2 separate regions of the Homo sapiens genome follow, and region 1 is linked to region 2. The links come from fine-mapping of genetic effects on gene expression. Tissue or cell type: thyroid. Region 2 holds a variant in brackets; the other region holds the start of a gene. All regions are shown on one strand. Distances are between the middles of the regions. Region 1 holds the start of NPAP1 (nuclear pore associated protein 1). Region 2 has its middle 26 kb from the start of NPAP1.

The links. PIP is the estimated chance that this variant, and not a neighbour inherited with it, causes the effect.
Region 1: it holds the start of NPAP1, and the variant in region 2 is fine-mapped to the expression of NPAP1 in thyroid (GTEx, PIP above 0.99).

The regions. Positions count from the first base shown.
Region 1 is chr15:24,669,806-24,685,478 of GRCh38, reverse strand. It overlaps NPAP1 (nuclear pore associated protein 1), which reads right to left and starts at 9,704. Exons shown (of 1, transcript NM_018958.3): 1 at 2,086-9,704. The coding sequence starts at 9,611. The coding sequence ends at 6,141.
Region 2 is chr15:24,641,766-24,657,438 of GRCh38, reverse strand. No RefSeq gene overlaps it. Among named protein-coding and RNA genes, the nearest start is that of NPAP1, 26 kb to the left of the region's middle. The variant G/TG (reference allele first, on the strand shown) is at 8,106.

The sequences.
Region 1 (15,673 bases), 28 kb before region 2:
CCCCGATCTCCCTTCGCTGACTCTCTTTTTGGATTCAGCCCGCTGCACACAGGTGAAATAAACAGCCTTGTTGCTCACACAAAGCCTGTCTGGTGGTCTCTTCACATGGACGCGAGTGAAACTTATCTCCTCTATTTTTTCCCCAGAATTCCTCCAGTTTCCTTTTATTTTGAGAATCGTCCTGCCTTTCTCTTTACAAAGCAAATGCTAGTCTATGTAGTTTGCATGAAGTATAGAGTTGCTCTCTATATGCAGTAAAATGATGGTTAATGGTGCCAGGATGTAATATAATAAAGTAAGGATGACAAGTTTTTTTTTCTTTTTTTTTTTTTGAGATGGAGTCTTGTTCTGTTGCCCAGGCTGGAGTGCAGTGGCTTGATCTTGGCTCACTGCAACCTCCACCTCCCAGGTTCAAGCAATTTTCATGCCTCAGCCTCTGGAGTAGCTGGGATTACAGGTTCATGCCACCATGGCCAGCTAATTTTTGTATTTTTAGTAGGGACAGGGTTTCGCCATGTTGGCCAGGCTGGTTTTGAACACCTGACCTCAGGTGATCTGCCCGCTTCGGCCTCCCAAAGTGCTGGGATTACAGGCATGAGACACTGTGCGCAGCCTGATAATCATTTTTAAACAACCAATGTCTGGTGTTAATATTCTCTGCATATAGTACTGAAGCCCAGAACCCCTGTAGCTTTAAGATGGCAAAACATGGCCATTTAGTAATATGGAGTTACGACACCCATAAAGTATCAATGTTTTTGGTCTGTTGATTGCTTACATCTCACATGTCTTGAACTAATGCTTCCCCTCACCAGAATATTTTTTAAACCATTAGATTGACAATGTAATTACCTGCATAGCAGACATATGCTAGGAAGTCTCAGAGACTCTCCCTGCAGGAATGCTTCATTCCCAAGAGAATGTGCTCCTCTCAACACTGTCATGTTCCCATTAGGGCCCTCCACATTGCATGCCCTAAATAAATCCTGTTCTGCCTGTTGGAGTCCTGATTTATTCCTGTCTTCTCCTTGCTTTTGTATCCTGAGGAATCTCATTTTCACTAGCCAGTTAAAAAGTTGACCTAGTTTGCTTTTGGAACCACTTACTTCAATGCACCACCCAACTGACCCTTCTTTCTTCGCCCATAAAGTTTCATTTGTCCTCCATCCTATGAAACCTACTTCCAAGAAAGTCTCTGATATCAGTCATTCACAGCTTAGTATGCATTTAAAGCAAAGGTACTATTTACCTAAGACAGATAATTTTTTTAGCAGAGATTTTGTTTGGCTTCTTTTTTTCTAGTCCCTCCCATGCCCCATTTCATGCATTGGATAAATCCAGGATCTAGATCATGGCTGTAAAACTTAGCAAATATTTGATTTTATGAGCCTCAATTTTCCTATCTGGAAGGCACATCTGATGATGATATTCCTGTCCTGGGACTTCTGAGAGAGCCATTCCCAGCTCTGCCTCAGGTAAAGAATGAATTGCTGTTTGGGAAGCCCTCATTGCATCACATAACCCTGGGATCACAGCAGTGACTGGTTAAGGGGGCCCTGGACAGTGTTCTCACAGTTGGGGGCAGTTTCTAGACCTCTAACATGAAGATATTTAGAGCAAGAAAGACATGCATCCATGAGTTGGAAATTCTCAAATTTTCCGCAGGCCATTTTCTAGTTCATGAGACACAGATGTAAGGAAAACACTCTGCTTATTACTAATTAGGGCTTTGGAACCACATCCTATACAAATTTTTTTATCTTATGAGATGAATGAGGACTTTGGTGAGCTCTCATGTAAGGTGTGAAGCAGTGTTTGGAATAATAGGAAACATGGACTGTCTGCATCATACCTCCCTAGAGTGCTGCCTGGAATCCAGATTCCTGGCTCTACCATAGATTCAGGAAATTAGGATGATGCAGCCAGAATTAGACATTTTTTAAAAATTATTGATTAGTGAGCATTTCTGGGCTAAACTAAAAGCAGTTTGGGTGGCTCCTTTAGGCCTCTTTCTTCTGAGACCATGTCCTTATGTTTGAAATGCTTGTTCCTCGGTGTCGTAAAGAAATAGCACTTGAACATAAATTTATTTAGTAAGGCCATTTTTACTTCCTGCAGAAAGGGTACACTTGCCAGCAGTTTTGCCACAAGAGTACACCGAACAAAGGAGACAGGGTCATTTATAACCTGACGCGTCCACCCTACTGCTGTGTCCGGTTTCCATTGGCTGGAACAGGACCTCACATTCTGTATTTGTCCCGATTGGCTAGCAATTTAGAACTTTTAAAAGAGGCAAAGGTAGAGGAGAACAAAGGAATGAGGAAGTAACTTGTGGAATGCTGAGAAAGGTAAAAACACTTCTAAATAAGGAAGAGGAACAGGCTATGACCTAATGCTTGGACCAGTATAAGCATGCCAGGGCAAATACTTAGGCTAAATTGTGGGAGCTAAGAACATAAAGTACATTGATTTCTTTATTATGACTAGCAGATATTTAAGAATGTTAGTACAGGTCTGTGAATACATTTTGCTTCTAAAAGAAGTTACTACTTATTTCTAATTAGATAGGGAGGAAAGTCTTTGAAGAGGAACCTCTACTTTACTTTTTACATTTACTTTGGTCTTACCACTCCCAAACCAGTGGAGGAGGCTCAAGGTTTCTGGAAAAGGAAGGGATTCAGTCAAGTAAACAATACTATTTGAAAATTCTAGAAACCAAAAACATTTTTTTTTTATGGGAAAAGAGTTCAAGGAGAAAAAAAGGAAGGCACTTCAAGTTTTAGGAAAAACAATGACATCTGTAAGATAACATAATAGTTGAAGTAAAAAAGCAAACTCAGAACTATGGGAGTGACATCAAAGTAGCTAAACACTATCTCTGGAGGAGGGAACTGTGGTAGGAAGGTTGACTTTCAGTATTATTTAAATTGATATTATGTTTGCTTTTTATCTTAATAAAAAATAAAAGAATATTTAGAAATAGTTTCAGTTGTGTAAGTGCATCAAAACATGAAAACAAAAATTATCTTTGTATCTCTCACACATTTATTCAAAGTTTGTCTTACCAGGATCATAATATTTAGCTTGAAGCCTTTTAAAAAATGTCAAGAAGTATGAATTTTAAAAAATTTGTCCCTGGTAATACTGCAAGGGTATAGGGCTATTAGAAGAAAACTGGATTTCCACTCTACTTCTGAAAGGCAGTTCTGATTACAAAAGTTAGGTGATTATCTGGCCAGGAAACAGGAGCTTTGATCCTCTGGAACTGTACTAAACAATTTAGAGCGAATGAATCAGGCCCCAGGGTGCCAAGAGGAATTCAGTAATTTCTCTGTGATTGTTTTCTTTCAGGCCTAATCTCATAAATGTTTTAGTCTCTGTTATCATATTTTTACATGTGTTTGCTTCATAAAAGTAAGTGCTTTTATGCTAATAAAAAGGGGTTCTTCCGAGAGGTGGAGCGTGCAGTGAGCCAAGATCACGCCACTGCACTCCAGCCTGGGTGACAGAGCAAGACTCCATCTCAAAAAAAAAAGGGGGTTCTTCTATTCTTCTATTTGAATTGCCTAATAAAGGCAATCAGGGCACCATTGCCTAAGGAACTCAGTCATTGACCATACATATATATGTATATTATCTATCTATCTATCTATCTATCTATCATCTATCTCTATCATCTATCTATGTATCTATCTATCATCTATCTATCTTTATTAGTCAGTTCTGATTGCTACAAAAAATGCCACAGACTGGTAGCTTAAACAACATTCAATTATTTTCTACAATTCTAAAGGTTAGGAAGTCCAAGATAAAGACAAATTCTGTTTCTTGTGAGGACTCTTTTCCTGGCTTACAGACTGTTACCTTGTTGGTATACCTTCACATGGCAATTAGAGAAAGCACTGGTATTTCTTCTCATAAAGGCGCAAATCCCATCATGGGGGTTTCATTTTCATGACTTCATCTAAACCTAATCACCTCCCCAAAGCCTCACCTCCTAATACCATCACACTGGAAGTTAGGCTTCAAAATATCAATTTTTGGGGGTACACAAACATTCAGTCCATAACGTTATCATCTATCTATCTATCTATCTATCATCTAATCTATCCATCCGTCTATCCATCCCTATGTATATAACAAATTACAACAAAAGCTTATAAGTCATTTCTCCATATTATTTCATTTTATCCTTTCAAAAATCTTATGAGATAAACAGGCCATAGTAAAAGTACTGATTTCATTGAGACTTTTGAAGTTTGAGTCAACTGTTATTACACAATTAGTAAAAAGTGGAGGAAGGAATTCCACTCACATCTCTCCTCTGTCCTCTTCTCTATCCCTCCCTCCCACTTGCTGACTCCATTCCAGCCACATTTCCTTACTAACTGCTCCATGAGGACACCAGGGATCCTTCCTTTGAGCCTCTGCAATGACCACTCCTATTATCTGGAAAGGTCTTTGCTCATATATCTGGCTCAACTGCTTCTCTCTAGGCTTCGTTTAAATTTACCTTCCCAGTGAGGCTTGTTCACAGTGTAAACTGAAACACCTGCTTCTATCTACAATCTCAATCCTCCATGTACTTCTTTATTTTTCATAGCATTCGTTACTGGCTAATTTACCAGATAATTTCCATGTTTTTGCTTCTTTTCTCCCCTTCAACTAGAATATAGGGTCCACAAAGTCGGGAATTTTGCCTTTCTGTCCATGACTAGAGAGAACTGGCCCAGAGGTAGGGTCAGCCAAGTTAACAGTCAAGCCAGGTTTCCTCTACCCTCCACAGTGCAGAAGACCACTAAAATACAGTGCGGTTCTGACTGGGCTCATCTGCTCCACACTCACCAATAAACACACACACACACACACAAACACACACACTCTCTCTCTCTCTGTCTGTGGTTTTGGGCCTCCAGCTTCTGTAGGAAGAGAGCAGGTTAAGTTTAACCTTGAGGGAACTGAGCCCATTCCTCCTGGAACAATGTCAATTTATGAGAACTGTATGTGCAGGGAGAGTGCTTATTTCTTAAGACCATTGATAGGAGTAAAAAATGAGTTGGTGGCTCCTATGAAGGCCTTGGCAGGTACAAGTGTCACTAGTGGCTGCTTTCCATCACAGGCACAGGTGCTCTGACCAGGACCATCCAAACACAAGTATTTAACTAACAATGCTGGCTCCTCTAGGCTGGGCATGGTGGCTCACACCTGTCATCCTAGCACTTTGGGAGGCCGAGGTGGGTGGATCACCTGAGGTCAGGAGTTTGAGACCAGCCTGGCCAATAAGGTGGAACTCTGTCTCTGCTAAAATTATAAAAAATAGCCAGGTGTGGTGGCATATGCCTGTAGTCCCAGCTACTCAGGAGGCTAAGACAGGAGAATTGCTTGAACCCAGGAGGTGGAGGTTGCAGTGAGCCGAGATTGTGCTACTACACTCCAGCCTGGGCTAAGGCTCCGTCTCAAAAACAAACAAACAAACAAACAAACAAACAAACAAACCAAAACAAAAACAATGCTGGTTCCTCTAAAGTCAAAAGGAGCACCTTGGTTGGGCAGGTCCATAGTATTTTTACTGAAAGGGAGACTAGAGGTTTCTCCCTACAAATATCTGGGGCTATCTCCTATTGCACCACCTGCATTTAGCCAGGTGGGCCTCAGGTGCTTTGTGTAAATGGGGGACCAAAAGTACAACCAGTCACAGCCGTTGTGTTGCTGTCCCTCATTGCATGGTTTGTGCTTTGTCCAGGTGGGCCCCAGGTGCTTTGCTGATACATGGGCACATGAGGGCCTTCTATCAAATGAATGTTGACACTCCTGGAAGAGGTACCATCTGTGTTTTGTCCAGGTGGGCCCTAGGTACTTTGTTGGTAGGTGGATACACAAGGGCCTCTAATTAAAGATATGTTGCCATTCACTGCAGATGCACCACCTGTGTTTTGTCCAGGTGGGACCCATGTGTACTGACAGAGAAAGGGAGCACAGGGATGTTGTTGTCCCCTCCTGGTGCACAACCTGAGTTCTGGAGAGGTACATGGCAGGTGCTTGGCATGAAGATGAAACTAGAAGCATGACCATACAAAAGGATAATGCTGGTATTTACAACCACAACTGATGTGGTGTGATCAGGTGAACCACAGGTGCTCTTACGGAAGTTGGAAACAGACATGTCTCCTAACATATGTTTCTTGTCCATAGTAGTGGGTGCTTGAAGTGTAGAATTTTCTCTCTGTCCATGTGTGCTGCAGGATGCACTGTTGAAAAGCAGGAACACAAGGGCCTCCAACTATGGATCTGGTGCCATCCCCTCCCATACCACTGCATGAATTCTGGGTAGGTGGGTCTAAACCAGGAATGTAGGCGGCAGCAGAAGTATATCCAAATACAGGAATGTTGCTAGCCCCTTGTGGTGCAGCAGCCATGCTGTGGCCAGTTGGGTCCCAGGCTGCCTGACCAAATGGGAAAACAGAAGTGGTGCTGGGTGTCCCACTCTGTCCTTGTCCAATGTTGAGTTCTCCTGATGTGGAACTGGGGCCTGGGGCAGACATGCTGAACCCAATGCTCCCACCATCCATAGGGGTTCCAGGTCCCATAATCACTTGTGGGCCTGGAATAGTATTTCCAACCAGTAAGGTACTGTCTCCAGTGCCAGGCATCCCAGTGGCAATTCTAAATCCAGAAGTCTTTGCTGTGCCATTGGGGAAAGCACTTGCATTGTGACCCTCGACTGGCTCAGCATTAACAGGTGTGCCCAATGCAGTATATGGTGATGTTAACTCTGCAAAACCTGGTGGAATTATGCTGCCACTCAGTGGCTGGACTGAAGGAGATGTTAAGCCTATAACTGGTGCTGGGGTTGCTGGATTCCCCAGAATAAAAGAACTGTCAGACTTCTGCTGCCCATCAGTGGCCCCAAGTGTGGAATGAGAGATGGATCCTGTATTTAAAGGATGGCTGGAAGTTGTGGTTGGTCTCCTATCTGCCTGTGCAGGAAAACTGGTGGAGACTTGGGCTGAGGCAATGCTGTCACTGTGTAGTGTGTTCCCAGAACCAGGAAGCCCCATATAAAATCGGATGTACTCCTCCTTCCTGGAGACAAAGGTAGACTGCAAGATGACAGTTTTGGAAGGAGGGGTGGTATTCATGTCACTGGTGTCAATGGCAGGCTTGGATAACGATGCTGCAGAGGCACTGCTCACTAAAGTGGAGGTGTCTGGAGGAACCATGATAGGAAGGCTCAGGAAATCATGGGCACTGGGGAGAGAGGTTTTCTGCTGCGGCCCATCAGGGGCCCCAAATTTGGGTTGAGGGGTGGCTCCTGGATTTAAAGGATGGTTGGAAGCTGTAGCTGGTGCCCTGACTGACTGTGCAGGCAAACTGGTGGAGCCTTGGACTGAGGCAGTGTTGCCGCTGGGTTGTGTGTTCCCAGAACCAGGAAGCCCCAGGTAAAATGGGAGGTACTTCTTGGAGACAGAGGCAGACTGCAAGATGACAGCCTTGGAAGGAGGAGTGGTATGCATAGCATTGGTTTCAATGGGAGGTTTGGATGATGATGCTGTAGAGGCACTGTTCACTAAAGTGGAGGTGTCTGGAGGAGGAATGATGGGAAGGCTCAGGAAAACACAGGCACTGGGGAGAGAAGCTTTCTGCGGCTGCCCATCAGGAGCCTCAAATTTGGGCTGAGGGGTGGCTTCTTTTCCAAAGAGTTGGTTAAAACTTGGGGTGGTATTGTGGAATATAAATGGAAGTGGGGATGTGTAGACTGATGTCTTTCCCGGGTGCCTCTGCTCTGCACTGCAATGTATTTGGGAATTTGGGAGAGAGCTCACTCTGGAGCTTAGGGAAGATGTGAAAATAACAACCTGAGATGGGGCAGTAGTATCCATATTAACTACTTCAGGGTCTACCGCAGTCTGTGAGGTTAGGTGGGCAGATGCGTTTGTTGTGACAGTGGAAATGACTGACGTGGAATTCATAGGCTTGCTGGTGATAACTGAGGTCCCGGTGGAAGGGACTGGAAGAAGAGTCAGGAAGGAAAGAGGAGGAGGGGAATCCACACACATAGATATTGGGGACTCCCTTGTGACGGGAGGCTTGAAGGAGGGTGTGGAGCTAGGAGGTGTTGGGGGGTCAGAAGTGAGAGGCGCTGCTCCTACGACTGAATTATAAGAGCCTCCTTTCTCATTAGACTGATCACCCAAAATGGGAACAAGGTCAGCAGGAAGAGCCAGAGGAGAGTTAGGGATTGTGAATGCTATTTTCTCATCCATTTTTGGTGTGGTGGAAAGTGGAGGGATAGGCAGGATGAGGGGTCCAGTAGCCAGGTCAGCCAAGTCAGGGATGGGCAAAGGAGCTGAGACCTGGGAAGTGTAAGTGGTCAGGGGCAGGGAGTCTGTGGTCTGCACAGGTTGGGAGAAAGAAGGGGCAGGCTGGGTGATGCTGCTGTTTGTCATGGTCTCTGTTTTATCCTCCAAGATTCTGCTATTCCTTTTATACTCAGGGCTCTTCTCCAAGGTGTGTAGGTCTCCCTCAACAGACAGGCAGGGGAGCTTAGCAGGTGGGGGAAGCTCACCTCGATCCCACAGCAATGGCAGTGAAGGGGGCAGCGGCAGCAGCAATGGAATCGACATTTTCCTTTTGCAGGGCCTGTTGCGGGCAGCTCTGGGAGGAGCAGCGCTCCTTGGAGGAATACAGAAAGGCTTCTCATCAGGCATCCTCTTTCCGGACATCAGCGGAATCGGCAAGCCTAGGGAGCTGGGCGGTGGCTCTTCATTCAGCACTTCCGCAGCCAACTTCTGCTGCAGCAGGGAGCAGCCAACGGCTGGCTCAGGGGGCGCTGTTGCATCCGGATCAGGCTTTCCAAGATGCCGGGCACATCCGGCCTGGCTGTGTGTGCTGGGCATGGCAGGGCCTTCCAAGCAGGAGCTCGCTGGAGACGCCTGGGCCTTCTCACTCATGCTGTTTTCTGAGAACTTGTGGTAGACATTTCCCTCCAGAGGCCCAGGGCTGCATCTGAAGGAGGCCACGTCTCCCTGGGTGCCCTGGGACCTGGATGTGGACGATGCTTCTCCGCTGCTAAGGGGGGTCCTTTTCTCGTCATCCTCCCCTTCGATCTGCACCGGATCCTCATCCTTCTTCACTCTTCTGGGCCCTTCTTGGGCCCACACCTCGGTCTCCTCCAGGAGAGTGGCTGGGATGGGCTTCCTGGCCTTGACCGCCGGCTCACGTGGTGAAGGCAGCAGGAGAGTGAACATGCGGCTGGGAGGAGGGATCCTTACGGAACTGGGGTGTCCAAACCTCGGGGGGTTCCGAGCAGGCAGCATGGGTGTCTTCCTGATGGCCAGCCCCCAACCCACAGCCGGCAGGACCCCCAGAGGGGCGGCCGCAGCCCGAGGGAGAGGACACGGCCTCTTAGGGGCGACGAAGATGCTGGCTGCTGAAGGCCTGCGACGGGCGTTCCGGCGGAACAGGCCGCGGAAAGGGCGCGGGGTGGGTACAGAGTGAGCCCGACCGGGCGGGGAGGCGTCCCGGGACAGGGGAGCGGGGGCGCCACGCCCTGGCCCTGGCAGGGGCCGGCGGCGGCACCCGGGTCTAAATTTACTAAGTAAATTGCCCATTTAGAGCTAGCCGTGCCTCCTACCGTAAAACAGGGTCAGCAGTGGACTCAACTCTCCTCAGCCACCGCCTCCTCTGGCGACCAAGCACAAACTGACTGGCTCTACGCCTGCGACGCCGCCGCGAGGTTCCTCACAGAACCAGGGAGCGCCAGCGGGGGCGCAAAAGGCAGGGGTCAGAGGGCAAAGGGCGACGCCCCGTCGGCCCCAGCTGCCCCAGGACCCCCGGAAGCCCCGCTGCCGGTGGCAGGTGTTGCACCGCGTGGCCTCTATGAGGGAACTGCTGGGGCCTGCGGGCCCATCGCCAGAGCTCTTGTCACCTGGGCGCCGGCTCTGCCTGTTCCTTAGCCCTGGCCCGGCGCTGTTGCACGCAGTGGCCCTGTGTCGGCCGTCCCCATTCCCCGGTTCACAGAGGGCACATCTGCTTCAAGTTAAGCACAGGACAACCTATATCCTGCCAGCCTCCTCTAGGACCTTGGCAGTGCTCTGTGCTGCCTGGAGCCAGGTGTGCCGTCTCTGTGGCGCCAGGGTCACCAGCCAGGCCGTGAGGGTTTCCGAGGAGGGGACGTGGTGCCTTGTCCTGACTAGATGCTACGCCCTACCACATCTCTTCCTGGCAGGCAGGGCCTCTTCACTTCTTTTCACAAATTTGTTTTAAACAACATTTAAGGCTGGGCGCGGTGGCTCACGCCTTTAATCCCAGCACTTTGGGAGGCCAAGGCGGGTGGATCACCTGAGGTCAGGAGTTCGAGACCAGCCTGACCACCATGGTGAAACCCCATCTCTACTAAAAATACAAAAATTAACTGAGCGTGGTGGCACGCACTTGTAATCCCAGCTACTAGGGAGGCTGAGGCAGGAGAATCGCTTGAAAGCGGGAGGTGGAGGTTGCAGTGAGCTGAGATCACCTCACTGCACTCCAGCCTGGGGGAACAGAGCAAAACTCTTGTCTCAAACAAAAACAAAAACAAAAAACCACAACAAACAACAGCAACAACATTTAAGCCTTAGGCTGCTTGCTCCTTGGGTCATTGATATGACAGTGGCCTAGCCAGGCTTCGAACCTGGGCTGTGTGATTCCAGAGCTGGTGCCGTGGCCTGTGTGCCTCCTTGTTATGGACACATCATGTATTCTCATTATTTCCTGTAGTCCTTAGGGTACCTAGCACACAGCACATCTGTATTAAGCACATGCGTTCCTAGGGGGAAGCCCTTACTTCACCTCATAAGTTGGTCATGGCAGGCACTGGGCTCCAGTCTCCTCTGAAGACATGGGGCAGCGACCCCCAATAGTCAGCAAAGCAGCATCCCACACTGTTCTTCTAATTGAGCCTTGCAGCCCAGATTTCCTTTTTGGTCTAGTTTGAAGGATCTAAATATGTAAAGATTATAGTCCAGATCCATTTTGGCCTATCCCGAAAGAAATTCACCAGTGGATTAATCCAAATGGATAAGCCAGTTCTCTGGCCTTCTTGGAATATGTTAGAAAGCAAATTCATCATGTATTTGCAAGTCAGTAGTGGAGCAATGTATTCGATTAAAATATGATCAATACAATTTGGTCATTGTCCGCATGCCAGCAAGGCCCACTCTTTACCACACATTACTGTCACCTAAGTATAACTATCCATATTCTTATGCCCAAGGAAGGAGACTTAATATTGGTTTTTAGGACAAAGGAAATATGTGTTACTGTTTTAAGAGCTGGAAGTTTCAGCATGACAAGAAAGATTTGGAAAATCCTACACATGACCTTATCTAGTTTTAATCTTGTTTCTTTGGTTTATTTAACTGGACTGCTTTGCTCTCTTTGGGCTAATGTTGTGTGCCAGACATAGGACATGTGGAAGGTTCAGAACCAAGAATCAGAGATCAGTAAAAATATTTTAATGTATTTTTTAGTTTAAAAATCGATTTAAAATAACATCAAACCTAGTTAACATACTACAAAATCCTTTTTATCCCCCTGTTCATATATTTTATACTATGTCAGAGTAAATGTGGGCTTCCATACCCAACAAAGCTTATGTTTCTAGGACACAAAGTTTTGCTCAGACCCAAATTCTGTTTAAAAAGAGGAGACATATTATAAGTCCTTCCTAACCTCTCAGGGAACCGAGAAATTGTTTACAATTATGGCATTTAACTGTAATCTCTTGATATCATTTGAGGAGAGTTTAATAAAAAATAATCTCTTGATTTTATTTGTTTAAACAAAAAGAACAATCTGGTACAAGTTTTGGACAAAGATTTCCTACAAGAACTCTGAAACAAAATCAAATGTCAGGCTTATTTGAAAACAATAAATTACAGCATTTTCCCCCAAACAGGAAAAATGCATTAAACAAATAATGAATATTGGGGCTTCAGGACAATAAAAGGAAATTTGGACAAGGGTATTCCAGAAAAATCCACCTCTTTATTTTTCTTGTCAAATGGGAATAGATGCTTTTTTTGAATATAAAATCTTCCTTGTGTTTGTGAGGCAAAATAACATTAGATGGCAACTGATTATTCTGAGATCTTTTGACTTGGCAGACGCAAACATGTTGAGATGAAATTTGTCAAGGCAAAATATTTTCCAAAAATTTAATTTAATAATTATATAAATACTGTGATAATAGCAACAATTTATAGTTGCCAGGTGAGATTACTTGTAATTTAATAATTTTTTAAAGCACCAATCTCCAGTCATATCAAATGAATCTCTGGGTGGCTAGCTTTGTATAGAATTGTGGTAGTGACAATAAACCATACCTAGCACCCTATAGTTGAACACTTTCACCAACAACCCACTGTAAGTCATACAGAGTTAATGTGAGGACACACTGAATCCTTTGGACTTTATTGACTCATGAACCTCATTAAATGAACTTTTTTCCCTAAAATAATTTCAGTCTCCTCTCTCGTGAAGAAAAGTTATCTGAAAAAGGAATGTGGAGGAAAGAGACTTTATTCCAGTGAACTGTTTGCATCCTCTGTTGCAAAACAAAGGTGCATTCCAGAAAACAAAGGGAAGACTTGGGTTTTATAGCAAAAGTTCGCTGTCCAGGTTCCCACATAAGTTTCTTTAGGCAAATGAAGGTTTGAAACTGGCTTAGTTCTGGCCCACTGTGGTGGCTCACATCTGTAATCCCAGCAGTTTGGGAAGCCCAGGTGAATGGATCACTTGAGATCAGGAGTTTGAGACCAGCCGGGGCAACACAGTGAAACCCTGTCTCTACTAAAACTACAAAAATAAATAAATAAATAAATAAATTGGCTGGGTGTGGTGGTGCACACCTGTAATCCCAGCTACTTCACTGGGTGAGGCGGCAGAGGTTGCAGTGAGCCAAGATCATGCCAATGCACTCCAGCCTGGGTGACAGAGTGAGACTCTGTCTCAAAAAAAAAAAAAAAAAAAAAAAAAAAGAAAAAGAGAAAGAAAGACATTGGCTTAGTTCCAATTGGCCAGTGCAGGTATAAACTCTAGTCAGCAAATGGCTGCTGGGCTGTATTTTAAATTTACGCCCAGTTAGCCACACAGGATTGATTTAGAAGAATTGGCTCTTTCAGATTCACATTTGTCCACACTCTTCCGCCCTTTACTGTAACCAGGGCTCAGCAAGGACAGACAGACTTTGTGCTGCTACTTCTTAGAGTAGCCTTTCCTTGGTTGTTTCATCTATTTCCTCTCCAGTTAACTTTTTGCTTTTCAGAAATGTATCAACACCTTTCTGTGGTTGATGACTTCCACAATCTCTTGGCTTTCGTTGGTCTACTACATTTTGGTATTTGTATACTTTTATTTAAGTACAATTTCAGGAGGAACACAAAGTAAATATGTGTTCCTGGTCTGTCACCTTGAACTGAAAGTTCCTGTTCATTCTAGAAGCCAACCTTCCCATAGGAGAAAACTACCCTTAGTATTAACAGATGTAGCATTCAAGACTTTAATTTTTCTTGAGGAATCAATCACTAAGGATTTAGGATATGGTAATTTCTGTATGGGGAAATAGTACCTATCCCATGGAGTTGATTGGAAGATTAAATTACATAATCGATATAGAAATGCTTTGTAAAATTTTAATTTCTGTGAAAATGCTTTTTTGTTGCTATATAAATTTTATGATTTTTTTTATGTAAGACCGTGTTTTTTGGTTAACTGTTTTGAAAACCAAACTGCATTTTTCATTAGCTCAATGGAAATGAATGGCATTGTTTTTGAGGGTGGGGATGAAGCCATAGATATTTCTCGATATCTATTACTTCACAATATTTTCAGCAACTAATTTACTCATGTATTCCTCTTTCCAATTTTATTGAGGACCTACTTCCTCAAGAAAAGTCAGATGCTTTATTTCAGGTTTTGGCAAACATTTTCTAGGTTTTAAATATTTAAGTCTTTGTGGGCCAAATGCAGTTTCTTTAGCTCCTCTTCCTCCTCCTCTTTTACCTCCTCCCTTTTATTCTTCAGGAACACTTTTAAAATGTAATCATCATTATTCGCTCACAGGACATACAAAATGATCTGTGGGTCATTTTTGGCTAACCCCTGATCTATGTCTTTACTGAGTAGAAGGCACATCTTTGAGTAAATCGCTTGTTTGAATCAACCAATCTTTTTTTTTTTTTTTCTTTTTTGAGATGGAGTCTTGCTCTGTCATCCAGGCTAGAGTGCAGTGGCGCGATCTCGGCTTACTGCAACCTTCGCCTCCTGGATTCGATTCTCCTGCCTCAGCCTCCTGAGTAGCTGGGATTACAGGCACCTGCCACCATGCCCAGCTAATTTTTGTATTTTTAGTAGAGATGGGGCTTCACCATCTTGGCCAGGCTGGTTCCAACTCCTGACCTCAATGATCCACCCACCTTGGGCTCCCAAAGTGCTGGGATTACAGGTGTGAGCCAACGTGCCCAGCCTGGTCTCCCCAATCTTGTCCTTAATTTCCTACAGTCTCTAATCAAAATGATCTCCAAGAGAGATCCTGTTGAAACGTAAGTCAGATAATATCACCCAAGCCTCTTCAATGGCTTACTCAAAGCAAAAGCCAAAGTACTCAAAATGCTTCCAAAACCCTAGCAATCTGAGCTCTCCATTTCCTTTCTGACTTCATTTCCTTCTTTCCACTCTGATCCCTCTTTCCCCTACACAGTGACATCATCCTTTCTGTTACCTGAATACTATATGAACACTTTTGCCCATGGCTGTCCCATCTGACTGTTTTCTTTACCATTTCTTTTCTAACACTCATTTTCCAGACATACACATCATTGTTTCCTAGGATCCCATTATGTTTCTTCTTAAATTTCACCTTCCACATAATTTCACATTGCAACCCCCACACCAACTGACACTCTTCAACTCCCTTCCCTGCATTATATTTCTTTCTAGGACATATCTGATATACTGTTTATTTTACCTATTTATTTAAATTTAATTTACATGTGTACACTTATGTTTATGTATTTGCATATTCATTTGTTTACTCCCCCCCACCCAAATAGAAGGTAGGAATATTTACTTTTTCTTTTTCGCTAATATTCCTTGAATATACCTGTAAACCAGTACCTGACATTTAGTAGGGTATCAATAATTTTCTTGAATGAATTAAGGTGTGGGTTGATTAGTGAATTAATCCCTAGGGTTTCTGAATTGAAGATTTGTGTGAAGAGGAAGGCAGCATGGCTGGGACAGGGTACTGTGAGAAGCAGTATTTGGAGTTCTCTGATGTGTATCTTAATATATAGATTTTTGTTCATTTAAATAATTTTAACAGGGTAGTTGGGAACTAGTTTAGGGAGACACATCACAAAATTTTTGTAGTGGATTATGTAGGGTTCTTTTAAAGTATGTGTAAGTATTAAAATATATGCATGTGTATACACCTCTATTAATTTATTGAACGCTTTACAAGAGCCCTTTGAAGTAGCAAGTATCAGTATTCTTCATTTACAGATGAGCTTAACTTGCTCAAGGTTGTATCATAATTTAGTTATAAATGTAAAACTAAACTTTGAGTTTTTGAGCAGATCCTCCCTAGAAAGCTGTGACTTATTAATAAGATTCTGGTAACCCACAGAGATTT
Region 2 (15,673 bases):
CAGACACAGATGTGTGAACAACATGTGTGTTCCTTGAAAATATCTCCCCTGCATTATCACCCAGTCCCTCCATGGTCTGCCCTTTCTGCTCAGACCTTCTCACATATGACTGATCCCAGCAGTCCTTCCAGTCCACCGCCCTCTTCTCATGCCCTGGCCTGTGCATTGATACACCTTTTCCTCTTCCCTTTCCCTCCCCTGTCTGCTGGACTCACTGCTCCTCACTCTCCAGAATTTCCTCCAATGCTTCTCCTTCTAGAGGTCTCCCTTGTCCATCCCATGCCAGGCCTGAAACCTGTCCTTTTCATTCCCAAGGGCAGTTCTTCCACCTGTAGTTTAGATTTCTGTTAAGTTTCCTGAATCCCCACCAGACCAGAATATCAAAGAAAATTGAAACTTTGTCTGTGTTGCTCCCTGTGAGCCCAAAATGTGTGGTGAACAAAGATCAACAGAGAATATTTACCTTTATTTGAAATTTTGCAAATGCATTCATGAATCTCTCAAACTCCTCACCCATATTCTTGTCTACTTTCCAATAAATTCCAAGTCTCTTCCTATCTGAAAAAATTTTGAACTTGAAGATGAGCCTGTTTCTTTTACTCCCTTCTGTTCTCAGGAAAGGATATGAATCCTGACCTCCCCCCGCCCACCTCTTCTTCAGCCTGCCCATCCTTGATCCACTGTAGAGACCCTCTCATGGGCCCAGCTGCTTCTACCTCATCTGAACCTCTTTTTTTCTTTTGAACAGTTTTGTCCCCTTGACTAAGAAAGGTCTTGTTCTTTGAGAGTCAGGTATATTAACATGGCTCAATTGATAAACATTTCCAAATACATTTTAGTTACATACTCAAATTTTACGAACTTTGTATGTAATCTTTAAATTTTTAATCACAATTACTGTTAGTCTGGTGGCAACCAAAACATAGTTTACATTGCACACAGATGAACTAGTCCTGAAATCTTCTGTTGTCACTTTATGTTACATAAGATTACCAGTATAAAAACATGCAGAATGTGTGTCAACAGGAAAGGCGGAAATCACACAGACAATAATGCAGCCTTTTAAAAAACTTTTATTTTAAGTTCAGGGGTACAAGTGCAGGATAGTTACATAGGTAAACTTGTGGTCGTGAATATTTTTTGTACAGATTATTTCATCACCCAGGTATTCAGCCTAGTACCTATTAGATATTTTTTCTGATCCTCTCCCTCCTCCTACCTTCCACCCTCCCATAGGCCTCAGTGTGTGTTGTTCTCCTCTATATGTCCATGTGTTCTCATCACTTAGCTCCTACTCATAAGTGAGAACATGCGGTATTTGTTTTTCTGTTCCTGCATTATTTTGCGAAGGATAATGGCCTCCAGCTCCATCCATGTTCCCGAAAAAGACATGATCTCATTGTTTGTTATGACTGTATAGTATTCTATGGTGTATATGTACCACATTTTCTTCATCCAGTCTATTATTGATGGGCATTTAGATTGATTCCTTGTCTTCGCTATTGTAAATAGTGCTGCAATGAACATGCATGGTCGCAGCCTTTTTAATGAAGAAATGTTTTATTGCCATGAGTCTTCTCGCCTCAGAAGGTAATGTCTTAAGATATTCATATCTCTGTGTCAAAATCTAATTAACAACTAGAATCAGAATGTCAAGATATTTGTGAATTCATTTAGGGATATTTTCAATGTTGCTTTCATCTTTATGTGAATAAAAATCATGCCTTTATAATTCTAGGAGGGTTTTTCAGTAAGTATAAAATGAAGCTATTATGTGTAATAGTCTAATTGACAGTGATATCTTCTTTTCCTTTAGATACATCTAAATTTTTGATTCAATGATATGTAGAGACGTCCTCCATCAAGACTCCTACAGGCACTGTGCATAGATTGATTCTAACTTTACCTTTAGGGTTACAAATGTGAGTTTATTGATTTATCTTTCTCTGTGGGTTCCATTCATAATGTTTCATATTCACCTTAATACTGTCATCTGGAAGCATACAGCCAAGAGTATATCAAGCCATTCTCCACATTCAGTGGTAAAATTGAGAGAGAGTAATCATGCCAGCTCTCATACAGGTGGGGTTGCAATTACTCCACCAACACATAGTTTACAGAACTTCGGAAATACTCCAGAAACAAAAGGCAAAGACCCCAGGAGAACCTATTTGAGTAAACTTGACCTTGAATCCTTCATCTTATTCCTGTCTGCAAAAAGACAGATGCTTTTACATAGCATGGCTGTCTTGCAACAAGCCCAAGGATGAGTGGTCATTCATTAGAGTTGTCAGAAATGACATGTATATATAGACTGAACCACCTCATATGACCCTCTCCTGGGTTTTCTATGTTATTTTGTTATATGTGGCCAATAAACTGAATATAATATGAAATAATGCAAGTAGAGCTTTTTATTTATACGAGAAGAACACAATCATTATCAAAAGAAGAAGATAATGTTAATGTATATCTACTCTGTTTGCTTCCCTGGTAAACATCCAGTTTGCTTTAATTCAAGAATCATCTTGCTTCTGTCCTTCACTATGTACATTCCACAGGCTGTTTTATTTGCATGGAGTATATTGCTCTTCATATTCGGTAAAATTTTGGTTAATGGTGCCTGGTTCTAATGCAATCACAATGTATAGGCAAAACATGTGTTCTTGACCAAGATCTGGCCTTGAAATTATCTTGATACAGTGTTAAATCACAGAACTCCTCATTACAGCTGTAGCTGGCAAAACAAAAGCTACTCTGTTAATTTGGAGTAAAAACATCCATAAACTATCAGTTGTCTTGCTCTATTGGTTTCTAACATCTCATAAATCATGAACAAATGCAGCCACTTGAGTAGAATTTTTAGGCTATTTGATTGAAGATTTTATTATTTGTATAGCATATATATGCTCTTGAGTCTCAGAGACCCCCCTCTGTAGAAATGCTTCATTCAAAAGAAAATATGTGCTTCTCAACACTGTCCTGTTGGCATTAGGGCCCTCCACACTGTGGGCAAATTCTCATCTGCTGTGGAGTCCTGAATTATGTATACCCTCTTCTTGCTGTTGTGTCTTCGTGGTTTCAGGTGAGGAAAACACTGTTCAACTTAGGGCGAGGAATGCCATCTTCACTAGCCAGGACACTCAGCCATCTATTCACATATAGACTGTGTCAGACAAGTGTCAAAGGTCCAGCCTAAGACAATGAACATCAACAGATTGGCTAAAATAATAGGCAGGTGGGTAAATTATTGACTTAGTAAAGGTAAATAAAAAGATAAAAAAGCATAAAAAGTCACAAATTTTAAAATATTATGCTAGTTTATAAGAAAAAAATAAGATTGCAATTCCCTTTCTACAAGACCACATGACAAAAATATTGGCTCTCTGGAAATGGAAGTACACATTTCCTGAGTGGCATTTATTATTTCAGTGAAAGCCAAAAACAATTTTATTAATCACTAATAAAAAAGTAGGAAAATAATACATATGTGTATTATATGTTAACTGTACAAGTAAATGTCATATAGATTTTTTTTAAAATAAGGTATATAGAATCATGGACTTCAGCCAATGTCTATAGCTCTTCAGGAAGAAATAAATCAAATATGGTAAAGTTCATACTTGCATATAATAAAATGGCTGGTCTCTGAATTCAGGATGTGAGTTTTAGTTTTTCTGTAGCCTTTCTCATAATTTTAATTGATTGATTTTGGTTTTTTTTTCTAATATTTGTCTTTTGGTTCGGGGTATATATGCAGGTTGGTTACATGAATAATTGCTTGTCATTGGGTTTGTTGAGCAAATGATTTCATCACCCAGGTAGTCAGCATAGTACTTGATAGTTTTTTTGATTCTCACCCTCTTCCCATCCTCCAACCTCAACTAAGCTCCAATGTCTTAGTTATTCCCTCTTTGTGTCAATGTGTAGTCCATGTTTAGCTCCCAATTATAAGTGACAACATGTGGTATTTGGTTTTCTGTTTCTGCATTAGTTTGCTTAGGATAATGACCTCAAGGTGCATCCATGTTGCTGCAAAGGATATGATCTCCTTCACTTTATGGCTGCATAGTATTCCATGGTGTATACGTACCACATTTTCTTTAACAGGTCCAACATAGATGGGCACCTAGGTTGATTCCATGTCACTGCTATTGTAAATAGTGCTGCAATGAATATAAGCATGCATGTGTCTTTATGGTAGAACTATTTATATTCCTGTGGGTATACAGCCAGTAATGGGATTGTTGGGTCAAATGGTAGTTCTAAGTTCTTTGTGAAATCTGCGAACTGTTTTTCACAGTGGTTAAAATAACTTATATTCCCAGCAGCAGTGTATAAGTGTTTCTTATCCTCCATAGCCTCACCAGCATCTGCAATTTTTGACTTGAATAATAGCCATTCTGACTTGTGTGAGATAGTATTTCATCGTGGTTCTCATTTGCATTTCTCTAACAATTAGTGATGTTGAGCATTTTTTTCATATGCACTTTTCCCTCTTCTTTTTCTCTCCCCTGTTTGCTTGATTCATTCTTCAGAATCTCCTCCATTGTTCCTTTTCCTGGAGGCCTTCCTTGTCCCTTCCATCACAAGTCTGATGCCTGTCCTCTCAGCTCCCAAGGGAAGCTCTTCCACCTATGGTTTAGCTTTCAGTTACGTTTTCTGAACCCTCACCAGACTGAAATATCAGAGAATATGAAAAGGTTGTGTGTGTTGTCCCCCTGTAGTGGACAAATAGCAACACAGAAGATTCACCTTTATATTGAATTACACTGATGAATTAATAAATCTCACAAACTCCTCAACTATATACTTGCCCACTTCCCAATAAACTCTCTATTTCTTTCAATCTGAAGAGGGTTTTAACTCGAAGGTGAACATGTTTCTTTTCTTCCTTTCTGTTGTCAGGGTAGGATGTGAGCCCTGTCTTCCCCTCAGCCTCTTCTCCAGCCTCTTAGCCCTCTCATGGGCCAGGCTACTTCTACATCTGCACTTGTACTATCCCTACAGACAGCATTACCCTCTTTGACAAAATAAAGTATTTTTGTGTTCCAAGTTTCAGTTCTATCAATTTGTCTCTCTGAATAAATATTTTCAAATCTTTATTATTTATTGCATTTTACCTATTTTAATCATGTTTTGTTTTCAAGTTTTACAATTGCTGTTAGCCTGGTAGTAGCCTTGACAGTTTTTAATGTCTACACATGTATGAACTTCACCTGAAATCTGCTTTCATCTTCTGGCAAGATGACCTACATCAAAACTGGCAGAATAAGTGTCAACAGGGAAAGTGGAAATCACACAGACAATGGTATAGCCTCCTTTATTGAGAAATGTTTTATTGCCATTAGTCTTCAAGCCACAGAGGATGATAAGATATCTATGGCTCTGTGAAAAATCTGACCTAGAACAATAAGAATCAGAATTTCAGGATACTGTGAAGTCATTTATGATCTAATTACAATATTGTTTTCATCTGTGTGTGAATAAACTTGTTCCTTTATAATTCTAAAAGGGTTTTTTCAACAAGTGTAAAATAAGTCTATTGTGTGCATAGTAGTATAACTGACAGAGATATTATCCTTTCCATATCAGAGGTACATAAAGGTTATGGAAAGGATTCCATACCCTTTCCATATTGAAGGTACATATTTATGGGATACATGTGAATATTTGGTATATTTGCATAATCAAATCAGTGTAATTAGGATATTCATCACTTTAAATACATTATGTAGTAAGGAGCATATCAGTTGAGACATATACTGTATGTCCCCACAATGAGACTCCTACAGACATTGTGCATTGGTCAATTCCGACCTTCTCTTTAGTATAACACATGACAGTTCCCTTATCTGTCTTTTTCTGTGAGTTTTACCCACAATACTCCTTATTCACCATAATACGGTTAACTAGAAGTATACAGAAAGGGGGAAGAGAAATGACTGAATAGGTGCAGGCAGAATGAATCAAGATGTTGTGGAGGAACTGGTAGGGATTAGATATCCCTCACCCACATGTGAAAACAACAACAAAAAAAATATAGAGACACCTGAGAACTGTCAAACAATGACATGAGCTCTTCTATTGCCTCAAGTTACTACTTCAAGGGAGTTTCCAGGCTGTGGTGTGGCATGGATTTGGAAGACACAATGATAGGAGAAGCTGGATCTGAGAGTCTGGAGAAGATTTCTGATGTAATCAAGCCGTTCTCCATATCCAGTGAACAAATGGGAGAAGCATTTTTGCCATCTTCCATCTGCCATCATTACTGAGAGATGGATCATAGAAATATGGGAATAGATTAGAAGAAAAAGGCAAAGACACAGAAGGAAGCCATTTGGATATACTTGGTTTTCAACACTTTCATTTCATACCAGACTTCAAAAAGACAGAGGCCTTTATATGATACAGCAATCTTGCAACCAGCCCAAGGATAAGTGAACATTCCTTAGAAATTAGATGAATGAAGTGTGTGAGTAGACTGAACCACCCCATGTGACACGAACTTGTCTTTGCTATGTCGTCTTGAGTATGGCGAATAAACTCACTACATTGTGAAATAACGGAAGTAGAGCTTCTATAGGAGTAGAACACAATTAGTTCCAACAAGAGGAAACTGGTAAGGCTTATCTCTTCTATTTGTTGCCTAGAAAACCTTGTTTCTTTTAAATTTGGGAACAATCTTGTCTTTGCTCCTCACTACATAAATGTTACAGTCTATAGATTTTGCAGAGTGTAGGCCTGCTCTTTATATGCAGTGAAATAAAATTAAATGGTGCCAGGCTCTAATATAATTATTTTTTTCAATATTTGCCCTTAAAATTTTCTGTGTACAGTATGGAAGCCCACAGATAGACTGCTGACACACTTGGGAAAACAAATGCCCATCTATTAATGTGCAGTAAAAGTATTACTGTGAAGTATCAATGTCCTGCTCTGTTGGTTGCTCATGTTTCATAAACCTCGAATATCTTTCCAGATATCCCCATTTCCAGAATGAGAAAATTGCATTACTTGCACAGGAATCATATTCTACTGAATCTCAGAGAATCACCCAGGGATGCTTCCTTCACAGGAGAATGTGTTCCTCTGAAGTTAATCATGCTGTCATTAAGACCCCCCAAATTGTAAGCCCTAGTTAAATCATAGTCTGTTTGTTGGAGTTCTGATTTTTTCTGATCTCTTCTTACTTCGTGTCTGTTGGTGGTTTAAGGTGAGACAACCCCTGTTCAACCCAGTTTGAGGAGTCCTATCTTCACTAGCTGGGACACTCAGCCATCTATTCACATATAAAGCAAGTCAGAGGAGTGTCAGAGTTTCAGCCTAGAACAATGGACATCAGTGGATCAGTTAAATAATAGGGAGAAGGATAAATTATAGACTAAGTCAACAAAATGAAAATCTAAAAAGTCAGGAGTGTAAAAATATTTTAAAAGTATTATGCTAGCTGAAAAAAATACAATATTGCAATTCCCCTTTTACAAGCCAATATAAAAATGTCTGCTGACTACAGCACAGGTATGTACACATTTTTAAGGCAGCACTATTTTACATCATTGAGAACTGAAAAAAATTTTAGTAAGCACTCATTAAAGAGTAAGAAGACAAAGCATGTCTACACTGTGGGTGATGAGTACAAAGAAATATCATGTACACAATTATGAAAGTGATGTGGAAGGAATCATGGACTCCAGCCAGTGTCTATAGCTATTGGGAAAGGAGCAAATTAAAAAATAAAACATGAGTGGGCCAGGCACAGTGCCTCACGCCTGTAATCCCAGCACTTTGGGAGGCCGAGGCAGATGGATCACGAGGTCAGGAGATCAAGACCACCCTGGCCAACGTGGTGAAACCCCGTCTCTACTAAAAATACAAAAATTAGCCAGGCGTGGTGGAGTGCACCTGTAGTCCCACCTACTCGGGAGGCTGAGGCAGCAGCACTGCAGAGGCTGCAGTGAGCCAAGATCACGCCACTGCACTCCAGCCTGGGCAACAGAAGAAGACTCCATCTCAAAAAAAAAAAAAAAGCTTTAGCACCATCCCCTTGATGCTGTCCTCACCACAGTGAGTGATTTCCTGAGATATTTGGCTGTTAAAAGAGT[G/TG]TGGCTCCCGGCTCTCTCTCTCTTGCTCCTACTTTCACCATGTGACAAGCCTGCTCCCTCTTCACCTTCCACTGTGACTGGAAGCTTCCTGAGGCCTCCCTACGAGCTGAGCAGATGTCAGCACCATTTTTACTGTACAGTCTGCAGTTCCGTGAGCCAATTTAACCCTTTTTATTTCCATAAATTACCCAGTCTCTGTTATTTCTTTATAGCAATGCAAGAATGGCCTAATACGAATATAAAAGTGACAGAAGAAAAAATAGGTAAATTTCATTTTATCAGAATTAAAACTTTACTGATTCAAAGTATGGAATCCAGACAACCCAAAGAATGGGAGAAATGTGTGCAAATAATATGAGCGACAGGAGACTATTGTTTGAAGACATAGAACACTTACAGTTTAAAAATAAAAAGGGAAATATCCTAATTAAAAGTTGTGTAAATAAACATTTCCCAAAGAAACTATACAAATGTGTAATAAGAACATAAAACTATTTTCAACACCTTTGGTCCTTAGTCAAATGCAAATCTAAACCATTAAGAGATATACTTCTGAAATCTTAAGCATATTCTTAAGAAATAGAAGCCAGTTAGAAAAAGAGTATATACTGTGTAATTCCATTAATATGATATTATTGAAAAGATGAAGTTATAGAGATATTTAAAAAATAGTAGTACGGTCTTGAGGGAGGAAGGTCAAAGAGGTGAAATACAGATTTTATTTTTAAGCATTAAAATTATTTTCTATGATGCTATAATAGTGTGGTAATGATACTATTCTTCATATCCCGAAGAACTTTACATCAGAAAGAGTGAAACTTTACAAAAACAATAAGCATTATTTAATAACTTGGAGGATCCCAGGGAACAATGCAGACAAAATAATATAATTGTGTAATAAATTTATAAAGATGCCTTATAAAGAGCATGGGGGCAAATGGGACTAACCCAAGAAACCTAGAATATAAGCTTTCCTGTCTAAAGGTCAAAGGATTTGTACATAAGTACTCTAGTTGGTAATGTTCTTTCCCATGAGGGTGTGAATTACCAATTCTGAAACCACATTGCATGTATTTTGGGACTCACTGATTACATAAAGTTGGCCAACTGTCTCACTGTTAGAGTGAGAGGTTACATAGCAAGTAGTGGGAATTGGTGGAAAGATTAATGTTTACTAGATTATATTCAAGTAGTGCTGAAGACATTTGTAGAAATTCATGCTTAATTCTAGCCAGATATATATGGACAAATGTAGAAATACATGTATATATTCAGTACCCTATGAATCAACCTATCTATTCATTCACTTGTGTGTAGCCTAAAACTCTAATGGTGACCAAATTGGTTCTGTTAACTTAATCATACCATCTTTTTGGAATCTTAGTGGTATTTTTGGTGAATGGTATTAGAAATAATATCATATATACATATATATTATACACACACACACATATATGTGTATGTGAGAGAGAGTTACTATATACACATATACATTTCTTTGTTCTCTCAGATGACATATCATAGAATCAATCCATTCCTAGCGGTAAGGAGTATACCCACTGCCCCAAACTTTGTTTCTAATATCGTTCACCAAAAATTCAACTAAGGTTCTTTGGGAACAAAAAGATGGTATGATTAAGTTAACAGAATCAACTTGGTCACTGTTAGAGTTTCAGACTACATACAAATAAATGAATAAGTAGATTGATTGATAAGGTAATGAATTAGATCATGTGGTGCTGGAAGCAATATAAACATATGTTTAATTTCATATAGATATGTATAGATGTGCTGAAATATTTATGCAAACGTGTATATTTATGAGTAAACACAGATATATTTCTTTCCTTTGTCAGCTGACAGGGCCTTAAATCAACAAGATATAACAATGTTTATAGCATATGCACCTAATAACACAGTGTAAACTATAGGAGGCAGAAATTGATAAAACTGCAAGAAGAAAGAGAAGAATGTCAGGAGCAATGAGTATACCCGGTGTCGAGATCTTAGTTTGTGATTTCATTTTCCACTCAAAGAAACTAGAGTTTCATGAAAAAAAGTGAATACTAGGCTTGGGTGGGGAATAAAACACAATGAGCCTGGAGCATCTAGTAGTGCCAGAACTAAAGAAAATGTCAAACCACAACACAAATATCCAAGTAACCAACAGTAAATTAAACGCTAATCATGAGGGTATTTCAAAATGAGAGAATCTAACTGAAAGACATTCCAATGGCCATCATTGAACAATGAGAGCAATAAAACAAATGCATTAGCATAGGTAAAATTAAAAAAAATCCAGGTTTTCATATTAATATGAATAAATTATTGAATATTTAATAAGCAAAGAAGAATAGACACATGCTTATGGTGAGGGTTCTAAATAACTTTTGTAGACACACTGCTCATAAGGAGTGGAGCATGATCCCCCACTTCTTAAGTGTGTGTTGCATATAGTCACTTTTTTAAACATTAAGTATGGAAAGGGAAAAAAAGGTGTTTTTAGAGAAATTTGATAAAAAACTACTCATCCAGGTGATTAAATTAACATAAACCACGATATAGCATGTAGATAGCATGTTGCCTTTGATATAATGTGGGAGAAGGGCACTACCTCTGTGATTCTGCAATCATCAGAGATGATTCACAAATTCAGGGCAATGATCAGAGAAACATCAGAGAAATTCCAAAGTAGGAATGTCAATGTCATCACAAACAAGGAAATGGTGAGAAACTGTCACCATCTCTGTATCTAAGGAGACAGATACTAAATGTGATATGGTACCCTGGATAGAATCCTGGAACAGAAACTGGATATTAAGTGAAAATTGAGAACATCTGAATAAATTGTAAATTGTAGTTAAAGATTATATACTGTATTTTTAGTTTAATTGTGAATACTGTCCTGCACAAATCTAAGAGTTTAATAATAAAAGGAAACTTCATTGAGCATAAGAAAAGTCTCTTTTACTATATTTGCAATTGTTCTGTAAACCTAAAAATATTATCAAATTTAAAAGTTTCTCTGCTTTAATGTTTAGCTTAAAAATCATCACATCAGTAATATTGCTGATGTCCCTTTAATGTATCTCCTTAATTTCATCATCTTTAACCACTGAATGTAACTATTATTGTGAATTCAGTCTTTGGCATTACCTAATTTTCTTTATTATTTTTATCTCTTCGTAATTTGAAAGACTATATTGTTTAGTTTTTCTTGACTTTAAACTTAGATGAATGTGTTTAATTTACTACGCATCACTAGTCTAATCATAAGAAATTATCAGACGAATTTATATTGTGGGTCATTCTACAAAATGCCTGACCAGTACATTTCAGAAGAGCAAAGGTCATGAAAAATAAGTAAGAAACTCTTGCAGAATGGAGAAGACCTAATGTGATGTGCAGATGCTAAAATTTTTCCCAGTGGTCCTCACCTGTAAGTATACATAACCTTGAACTGTAATTCACTGTCTGTGTGTGTGGTCAGAAAACGTGACTTGCCTGCTGTGAAAATCAATTTATTGATTTTCTGCCTGGAAAATTTGCAATGGTGATGGTATGTTACTTGAATGATTATGTTACATTAGATTATAATTTCTGTCCTGCTGGCTGACTCTCCCTTGATGGATTTTTGTTGTTGTTTTGAGACGGAGTTTTGCTCTTTCACCCAGGCTAGAGTGAAGTGGTGCGATCTCAGCTCACTGCACCCTCTGCCTCCTGGGTTCAAGTGATTCTTCTGCCTCAGCCTCCTGAGTAGCTGGGATTATAGGCGCCTGGCACCATGCCTGGCTAATTTTTGTTTTTAGCAGAGATGGGGTTTTGCCATGTTGGCCAGGCTGGTCTCGAACTCCTGATCTCAGGTGATCCAACCGCCTCGGCTTCCCAAAGTGCTAGGATTACAGGCGTGAGCAACCGTGCCCAGCCTTGATGGATTTTATGAAGAATTCTTCCACTTGCAAGAAGCTCACTCGGGAAGGAATTTAGTCAGCCTATTGTCAGTAGCCAGCAAGAAATTGGGGCTTTCTATGCAATAGAATTCCATATAGCTTGCAAAACTACATCTAAAATTGGTCTAAGCTCCGTTCCTGAAAAGATCATACTGCTTCACAGGTAGTGTGAATACAATAAAAAAAAATCCTAATTTCTTTCTCCCTCCCTTTGTTCAAGAAACTGTTATCTGTTAGAATAAACAAATGGAAAATCATTAAAACAACACAAAATAAAACTGATATATAATTTATTTGTATAGCCACCTCTGAATGCCCAATCTGGCTGTAGCAGAGAACAACACTGAGCCCACAATATGACACCATTCTCTGAGGTGATCAGTTAGACACCTGAGGGTAGGTTGATTACATTGGACTGATTCCATCATGGAAGGGACAGAGTTTTGTTCTTACTGAAACAGACACTTACCCTGGACATAGATTTATGTTCCCTGTATGCAAAGTTTCTTCCAAAAATGTCATCCTTGGACTTACAGAATGCCTTATCCACTGTCGTAGTATTCCACACAGCATTCCTTCTGACTAAGGAACTTACTTCAAACTCAAACAAGTGTGACAATGGACTTTTGCTCATGGAATTCACTGGCCTTACCATGCTACTCATAATCTTGATGCACCTGACTTGACTGATTGGTGGAATGGCCTTTTGTTTTTGGGGGTTTTTAAATTTTGTTTTTAGTTTTTAATTTTTGTGGCTACATAGTAGGTGCATATACTCATGAGGTACGTGAGATACTTTGATATTGGCATGCAATATATAATAATCACATCATGGTAAATAGGCTATCCATTCCCTTAAGCATTTATCTTTTGTGTTACAAACAATCTAGTTATATTTTTTTGGTCAGGTTATTTATTTCTTCTTTTTTGATGCAGGTAGTTATATCTATAAATTTCTCTTTTAGTACCACGTTTTCTGTATCCTGTAAGTTTTGGTATGTTGTGTTTTGATTATCACTTGTTTCAAGAAATTTTTCAATTTCCTTCTTCATTTCTTCATTGACTCACTGGTTGTTCAGGAGCATGTAGTTTAATTTCCATATGTTTGTATAGTTTCCAAAATTCCTTATGTTTTTGATTTCAAGTTTTATTTCATTGTGTTCAGAGAAGATGCTTGATATTACTTCATTTATTTGAATATTTTAAGACTTGTATTGTGAACATATGGTCTGTCTATACTGAGGAGAAGAATGTGTATTCTGTAGCCATTGAATAAAATGTTCTGCAAATATCTAGTGAGTTCATTTGTTTTATGGTACAGATTAAGTCTAATATTTCTTTGTTGATTTTATGTCTGGAAGATCTGCCTAATACTAAAAGTAGGGTATCAAAGCCTCTAGCTATTATTATATTGGGATCTGTCTCTCTCTTTAGCTCTAATAATATTTGCTTTATACATCTGTGTGCTCCAAAGCTGGAGATATAGCTATATTTATATTATCTATATATCTATATTTAGACATATATATCTATATAATAGACATATATATCTATATAATAGACACATATATCTATATATAGACATATATCTCTATATAGACATATATATCTATATAATAGACATATATATCTATATATATAGACATATGTATCTATATATATAGATATAGATAGGTATATTTTTACAATTGTCATATCCTCTTGCTGAAGTGGCCCCTTTATTATTATGTAATGTCCTTGTTTGTCTCTTCCCATAGTTTTTTTTTCTTGAAATCTATTTGTCTGATTACCCTAAGTTACTCCTGCTCTTCCTTGGTTTCCATTGGAATAACTTTTTTCCATCCCTTCATTTTCAGTTTATAGGTGAAGTGTGTTTCTTGTATGCAACAGATCACTGGGTCTTCCTTTTTTTTATCCATTAAGCCACTCTTTGTCTTTTCACTGGAGAGTTTAGTCAATCTACATTCAACGTTATTGACAAGTAAAGACTTACTCTTGCCATTTTGCTATTTGTTGTCTGGTTGTTTTGTGTTCTTCTCTTCCTTCTTTTCCTTCCTTCCTGTCTTCCTTTTAGTGAAGGTGATTTTCTCTGGTGGTACGCTTTAATTTCTTGCTTTTTTGTGTATATATCCATCATATGTTTTTCTCAATTTGAGGTTACCATGAGGCTTGCAAATACTATCTTATGACCCATTGTTTTTAAACTGATAGCAGTGATTGCAGAAACAACCTAACAAGCAAAAAGGAAACTAATAAAAACTCTACATTTTAACTTCATACTACACTTTTTAACTTTTGTTATTTTTCTTTATGTCTTACACATGCAGTCTATGTCTTGAAAAATTGCCAAAGTTTTTATTTTGATTGGTTAATCATTTGGTCTTTCTACTTATGAATAATTTACACACCAAAATTACAGTGTTACACTATTCTGTGTTTTTCTGTGAGCTTACTATTACCATTAAGTTTTGTACCTGCAGATAATTTCTTACTGATCATCAGCAGTGTACTGGAAGCTCAGGTGAAACCCTCAGGCTCTTTGTTTCTTCCCCAGACTGAGGAAAGCAAGGGCTGAGCCATTGCTGTGGCACTGGCACGGGGGCTGTCAGTTGCCACTGGGAGTACTTCCCCAGGGAAACACAGAGCCACTACTAGTGGGTATGCTCAACAATGGGTGGGGAAGCTGCTCTGTGGTCCTGAGCCAGGGCCTTGACTGTTGAAGAGTTGGGGGTGGGAACTCGCAGGGAAGAGAAATTGGGCTCCTCTCCATATGGTGGCTACAGTGTGCTGGAGATGCCAGTGTAGTGCTTAGGCCATTTGTTCCTTTCTCTGCCTGAGGGCAGTTAGGGCAGTACCACTGCAGCTGCAATGGCAGAAGGGTTGTGGGCTGTCTCTGGGATTTTCTTCAAAGAGAAATGCAAAGCTGCCAGATGGAGTATTTTTTCTAAGATGGAGTCATTTATGTCAATGGTGTTCTACACAGGACAGGAACCTGCAGGTGGGGTAAAGTGGGGAATTGGAGTAATGGAGAAAGAGAAGTGAACAGGAACATCCAAGTCCATGATACTGTCAGTCAGCCTGCCTAGGGTCCTCTCTGCCTGTCTTCATCCTTGTCCTCCCCACACTCAAAGCCTCCTGATAGTGCTCATGTCTATCCCCAGAGGGCAGCGACCATCCTCAATTGTTCTGTCTTCCTGATGGGCAGACCACATGGGCTAAAGTAACATTTCAAGAAACTAGATCTAGACATTTAAAGTTCCTCTACACAGAATGTATTCCTCTCTGAGTTGCTGCTACATCACTGCCTGAGCTGCCCTCTCTCACTGGCTCAGTCCCTCCATGGTCTGCCCTTCCTGTTCCTGCAATCCTTACATTTCACTGAACCCAGCAGTCTGCTAATACCACTGCCCTCTTCTCACACCCTAGCCTGTGCTACAGACACACTTTTTTCTCTTCTCTTTCCTTTTTCCTGTTTGCTTGCCTCACTTCTCATTCTTCAGAATCTCTTCTATTGTTCCTCTTCCTATAGAATTTTGGTTCAGATTCAGAACTAGAACTTGAGAGAGTTAATAGTGTCTGTCTGCCTCTTGAGATGATGTGAGAATTGAGTGAACTAAT